Linked DNA regions of Homo sapiens. The protein of the gene in region 2 interacts with the protein of the main gene of each other region in a pairwise test. Each region holds a gene or a part of one and is shown on either strand. Other genes may lie near its edges.

Region 1 (3,500 bases), on a different chromosome or scaffold from region 2:
CTTGTGTCAGTGATTACTTATCCATTTTGATCAGTCACATGGCTTGTGCTTTATCATCTCTAAAATTTATATTTTGCTATTCTCCAGTCTTTAAAAAGCTAATTTCCTATGTAAAAAGAAAAATATTTGAAAAGTTTGCTGACAGAATAGAAATTAAAAATTTATTTTAATGTCAAGGTTCCAAAAACCTTGACATTTTGAAGCCATTGAGTTTCAAGATTTTTTTTACTGGTAATATTTTAGAAACAGTATTTGTACTGATTATATATTTTTCCCCCTCTCAGGCTGTTATAGATGCAAATATTTTTCCTGTTTTGATTGAGATTCTTCAGAAAGCAGAGTTTCGTACCAGAAAAGAAGCAGCTTGGGCTATAACTAATGCAACATCAGGAGGTACTCCAGAGCAAATAAGGTATGATATAAACTTCTTAATTGTTTTTTACATGTAAATGAGACAAAAGTTGAAATAAAACATATTTTAATTTACTGATGGAACTAAAATATTATTTCTAAGTCAGTTTGATAATATGAAATGACAGCATGTATTATATCAGTTACTCATTCACAATTTTTTTTTCCCCATTTAACGTGTAATTAACATCATTCTCCTTGATAGGCTGCTTAAGAAAAATCAGAGATTAAAAAATCCAAACGGGAACGGTCTATGTTAATTTGCAGAGTACACTGTCATGGGCATTAAATATTTTTTAATCACAAAAATATAGCTTTATTATATAGAAATGGCTAATAAATTTGAATATCCACTTACTTTAAATAAAATTGAAATAGACATTGTTTATATGGTGATGTTCTGGTCCTCATTGATTGTTAGCCTTGCCTATGGATAGTATCTTTTATTTTTCTATACTAGTTACCTTTTTTTTATATTAGCTTTTTGAGTCTAGGCTTTTTAAATTTATTTATTCTGCTGACAATGTAAATAATAGGTGCATGGGCTTTTAAGTCAGCCTGATTTCAAATCCTGCTCCTTCAGTAAAAGTTGTGTGGTCTTGACAAAGTCATTTAACCCCTCTAATCTAGTTTCTTCATTTTAAAAAATGAGTTCCAGTAATGAATAGTTATGGCAGTGTAAGTCAGCCTTCCATATCCTTGGGTTTTGCATCTGTGGATTCAACCACCTGCAGGTCAAAAATATTAAAAAAGAAAAAGACAGTAAAAAATGCCAGTACAACACTACAAAATAATGCAAATTTAAAAACACAATACAACAATTAGTAACATCATAGCAATTACATTGTTTTAGGTATTATAAGTAATCTAAAGATAATTTCAAATACTTGGAAAGATATGCATAGGTTGTATGCAAATACTATGCCATTTTATATAAAGGAATTGAGCATCTGTGGATTTTGGTATTGAGAGGAAGGGTGTCTTGGAACCAATCTCCGATGAAACCGAGGGACTGTATCTTGATAGTTAAGTGAAATTTATGTCTTTGAAGTGTCAGCACAGTGCCTAAACATATTATTAATAACTAATAGATAATTAAGAATAGCTACTGTTATTATTTGTAATCATCATAATTTTTATTATCAGTATTGATTCCTGAATCTTTTATCATGTACTTTCACTCTTTTTTATCTCCCATAGCAAAGTTTCACTTACACCTCTACTAAAAGCTTCTACAGAATCGTCTTGTTCGGAGGATCCCTCCATGAAACTAGACTTCTTAGAAAATATTTTCTAATGCATATTTGATTTATTTTTCAATTTATAAAACAAGTCAAACTACAGTGCTATTTTATAAATCACATAATTTTGAAATCTACCTATTGTGAAATTGTCGTCTTTTATTGCCTTCATTTGTAGTATTATCTTGCTCTCTCAAATTTGTATAGCTGTATATTGCTAGCATCTGTCTCTGCCTTTTATTTTCTATTCTATCTCTTTGCTTTCATCAGTATTTCCACTTTGTGTCATGGATACAAGCAGTAATAAATGAAGACCCTTCCTTTGTTCTATTTTGTATTTTTTTAATGTTGATGTTACTTTTATTTTATTTGGGCTGCAAGTTTGTTCACCTGCAAATAGTTGTATTTTTTCAATTAATTTTTGTGGTTATATCTATTCTGTATATTATTGCTTTAATTTATTAGTATGGATTAAGTATCCAAACTGAGATAATTATTTTTCTAACCACTTTTATCATTTCATTAAGTTTGCATATTTGGGAAAAGACCTCTTGATCTCAGATTAAGTTATGCATCCATACCACTAGTTGAGTGCCTACTATTGCCAGTTATTGTGCTAAGTAAGTCATTTCAGTTATTGAGCACCAGCAATGTGTCTGGTACTTTCATGTATTTTATCTCCTGTAATCTCTTAACTATGAGGCAGTTATTCATTCAACAGATATTTTTGACCAATTACAGTACAGTATAGGGCAAATGAGTGCTCTGGTGAAGGTATATACATCTTTTTTTTTTAAGAGGGACAGAAACTTTTATTAAATGTCTATTGTGTTCTTACAACTACTCTCTGAAGTTGGTACTATTATTATTCCCATTTTTAAGATGGGGAAACTGAGACACAGAGTAATTGCTCAAGGTCACACAACTAATAAGGGGTGGAATTGGGACTTGAAGGCACACAGCCTGGCTTCATAGTATGTTTTTAACCTTTGTACTTAATATGGACTTTTTGCCAAGTGAACAAATCAGTTACTTCATTTACATTATAGAGTACAGAAAACCAGCCAATAACTAGAAAAGGACATGCATTCAGAAATTAAAGAATTTTTTTGTGAATATTATTTATGAACATTATTCACAAGAGAGCCTGTTTTGTTCCTACAGGCCTTCTATCCTTCTGAAACACAGTATATGTTTCAGAACATTAGCTGTGATTGTTTTTATGGGAAATTTTCTCAAGTTTAATTTAGATGTCTCTTCTTTCTTTCCATTTCTGTCTACCCCCATATGACCTCCGTGTGTGTGTGTGTGTGTGTGTGTGTGTGTGTGTGTGTGTGTCTGTGTGTAGGCTTGCCTTTAAAAAAAAAAAAAAACAACCTTTCGAACCTACGTTTAATGCTCAGATGAGCACCATGAAAAACAGGCCGAAGTACCAGTTTGTGTCTGTATTTTATAGTCTTTGCAAGACCATTTATTGCTAATTATGTTAAATTAGAGAATAGGTGAGTAAAGAAAATTTTAAGTTTCCTATGTGAGAATTTAAATGTGTGTAATGTTTGCATTTGTATAGGAATACTTTTTCTTAATTGCTTATGTAACATTTCACTATGAAAAATATTTTTGTGTCATTGTTACAAACAGTACTTAAGTCTTTTTAAATCTTTTTTTCCCTGTTTCTTCTCTTTTATATTAATCTGAAGGTATTTGGTAGCTTTAGGCTGCATTAAACCACTTTGTGATCTTTTGACTGTTATGGACTCCAAAATAGTCCAAGTGGCTTTAAATGGACTTGAAAATATTTTACGTCTTGGAGAACAAGAATCTAAGCAGAATGGAATAGGCATTAAT
Region 2 (3,500 bases):
AGGCATGAGCCACTGTGCCTGGTCCAAACAAAAATTTATATATGAATGTTTATAGTAGCATTATTCATAATTGCCAAAAGGTAGAAACAATTGAAATATACATCAACAGAAGAATGGTTTAAAAAATGTGGGTTATTCATACAATGGAATATTATTAAACCATAAAAAAGGAAGTACTTACTAATACATGGTACAACATGGGTGAACTGTGAAAACATGCTAAATAAAAGTCAGACCAAAAAGGCAACAGACAGGATGATTCTAGGTATATGAAATACTTAGAATAGGCAAATCCGTAGATCAGAAAGCAGATTAGTGGTTACCAGGGCCTTAGGGTAGGGTTGAAATGGGGAGTGACTGCTTTATGGGATGATGAACAGTTCTGTAACTAGATAGTGGAGATGGTTGCGTAACTTTGTGAATGTACTTAATGCCATTGAATTGCACATTTTAAAATGGTTAAACTAGTAAATCTTATGTTTTGTGTATTTTATCACAATAGAGAATATTTTTTAAAAAAGAGAACAAATTTGCTTTTATTTTGGAGGTTACAAATTTTAAGAAACTTTCTGAGAGCTCCTACAATATGAACATGAGTTCTTGCATCCAGGGCTCTGCAGTGTTTACTGGACTTCCATTTTCATGCTCGGTCAGGTTACTTTAGTGTTTTTCCCAAAGTATGTGATGCCCAAGATGATTTTAGGTGATAAGGATATTATTGCTTAGAATAAGGATAGGACAAATGAGCACATTTAAAGAAAAATATGTAGCAAATAATCACATAGATGACAAGCAGATATGACAGAATTCATGATGATGGTATTCAAATGAATGAAGTTCATTTAGTGAAGTTTCAGAAATACTGGATAGTCTCAAACTCCGATTTTTTTGGTGAGTTCAATTTTAGATTACAATCACTAAGTATACCTCATAAGTATGTACTTTACGAACTGATGATTGGAAAGAGAGAATGGAAAAATGAATTTTAGCTTTTACTTTTTTGTGTAATATCCTAGCAAAAACTGATCCTAAAAATGAAGAGGAAGAAAAGCGGCGAATTGAGGCTCGGCGAGAGAAACAAAGGCGCAGAAGAGAAAAAAACAGTGAGAAATACGGAGATGGATACAGGTTTGTACTTAGAGTCAGAAAATTAGGTTCATTAAAAAATGATTTCCTAGAAAAAGCCAACACATCAATTGTAATATTAAAAAGTTCTTAAGATTCAAATGAAAAGACTTGTTCAAAGATACAGAGGAATGCTTTTGGTTTTTGATATTTATATGTAATCACTACTTAGAAAACATAAGAAAAAAGGCATTCTATTCATATTGGCAATCCAAAAGATATCAAATATTCAGAAATAACAGTATTCTTAAAAAGAAACACTTGTCATTGAGATTTGACTGTATGGAGTCATAGTGATTTTCATGGGCAGGAATTAAATATTACAAATATGTAAGTTCTTTCCAATCCAGATCCCAAAGGAAATTCTGAAGAAGAGTAAATGAGTAGGTACTGGCTTTTATAGATAATCAATCATTAAAAAGCTATAATAGTTAAAAATATGTGGTAATACACAAAGCTAATTATTATACCAGATTAGCCTGTGAACAGACTGTAAGGAAGAATGTAATATTTAATAAAGAGGATATTAGAAATAAGAGGGGAATTGGGCTAGGCACAGTGGCTCATGCCTGTAATCCCAGCACTTTGGGAGGCCGAGGCGGGCAGATCACGAGGTCAGGAGATCAAGACCATCCTGGCTAACACGGTGAAACCCCGTCTCTACTAAAAAAATACAAAAAAAAATTAGCCAGGTGTGGTGGGTGCCTGTAGTCCCAGCTACTCGGGAGGCTGAGGCGGGACGATGGCGTGAACCCGGGAGTCGGAGCTTGCAGTGAGATGAGATTGAGCCACTGCACTCCAGCCTGGGCAACAGAGCGAGACTCTGTCTCAAAAAAAAAAAGAGGGGAATTGGTTGAACAATGAAATAACAACAAAAATCAGTTTAGAGCCTCCTCATATGACACCTGGAATGAATGTAGTAAAAAAAAAATGAAATTACAGAAAAACAAAATGTTCTGCAAGGAGATTTTTTTCCCAGGCTTAAAAGTTATAGAATAAATTACAAAGGAAATTATGAGCAGATTTGGCTAAATAAAAACTTAAAATTTGAAAGGAGTGCAAACAGACTTGGAAAATATAAACATGAGAAATGATTAATGTCCAAGTTAGATTAAAACATCACCCAAATTATTTTAAAAAGTAAGAAAACTAAGCTGTTTAATATGATGAGGAAACAAAAAACAGCTAGTAATAATTTTAAGGAAATTGTTTAAACTTAACAGTAATTTCATTAAACTAAAAATTTAAATAATAGTATGCCATTTTATTACTAAGGAGAAATTTGATTTGCTAATTAAGGAATGGTCAAAGGACGCTTAAAATTTGTTGGTGACAGTATATTATAACTATTAGCAATTTAGCAGTTTTTTAAAAATGTCTAAATTTTTCTTAAAGCCTTGAGCCCAGAATTTTGAGGCCAGCCTGGGCAACGTGGCAAGACCTCATCTCTAAACAAAACAAAACAATCCATAAAAAGAAGAGTAGTTCTAGTTTCAAGAACTACTGCTATTTTTAGTCCTTGTGAGTTCTCTGTCCCATTCATTATCTCTTGTGATTCCTTCTTTTGGTAGAAGTAACAGGCATAGTTAATATTTTGGTGTAGAAATGACTTTAAATTATCAGCGTCTTGGAGTGTAAAAATCATTTTACATTATAAGATGCAATTTTTTAAATTTAATTGCCCTATGAGTACTTTTCTCATGAAAAATTTTAGATATGGATTATGTTCATGTTAATATAATATATAAAATTGTGATATAGAGAAAATGAAAGAATTGAACTTTCATTTAGCTATTTTCTCTGTAACTCTAAATATAAATCTGATGATATAACCAAAAGAATGTTAACTCATAAATTATCATTTTAGGATATAATTTATTTAAAGTAGTCTAAGTTATTTTCATTTATCAGAGCAGTTTTACTTTGAGTTATGAGGATTCGAGATTGAGTAAATCACTATTCTTGTGATAGGTTCCTTCCCTTGGATATTTGAATGCTTCCCACATAATAAAGCACATGGAAAGGTTTATATCTACCCTTAAGGGAACCTAGGGAGAAAGAGATGGATGTGTGAGAGATGTACATAAATAATAGTGTATGGTGAAGGATACCAGGAGTACAATGTAGTCTCATGAGATATAACTTCTAAATAAGGGTATAGGAGACCAAGCATGGTAGCTCATGCCTGTAATTCCAGTACCTTGGGAGGCCAAGGCAGGCGGATTGCTTGAGCCTAGGAGTTCAAAACCAGCTTGGGCAACATGGTGAAACCTCATTTCTACAAAAAATACAAAAATTAGCCAGGTGTGGTGGCACGTGCCTGTGGTCCCAGCCACTTGGGAGGCTGAGGTAGGAGGATAGCTTGAGCTTGGGAG

The links.
Region 1: the proteins of ZNF326 (region 2) and KPNA5 interact in binary tests that used the Homo sapiens proteins (3 or more experiments, as listed by UniProt).

The regions. Positions count from the first base shown.
Region 1 is NC_000006.12:116,726,211-116,729,710, forward strand, and holds part of KPNA5 (importin subunit alpha-6), read left to right. Parts: intron 1-284; coding exon 285-412; intron 413-3,352; coding exon 3,353-3,500. UniProt on the Homo sapiens protein: Functions in nuclear protein import as an adapter protein for nuclear receptor KPNB1. Binds specifically and directly to substrates containing either a simple or bipartite NLS motif.
Region 2 is NC_000001.11:90,012,110-90,015,609, forward strand, and holds part of ZNF326 (DBIRD complex subunit ZNF326), read left to right. Parts: intron 1-1,016; coding exon 1,017-1,128; intron 1,129-3,500. UniProt on the Homo sapiens protein: Core component of the DBIRD complex, a multiprotein complex that acts at the interface between core mRNP particles and RNA polymerase II (RNAPII) and integrates transcript elongation with the regulation of alternative splicing: the DBIRD complex affects local transcript elongation rates and alternative splicing of a large set of exons embedded in (A + T)-rich DNA regions.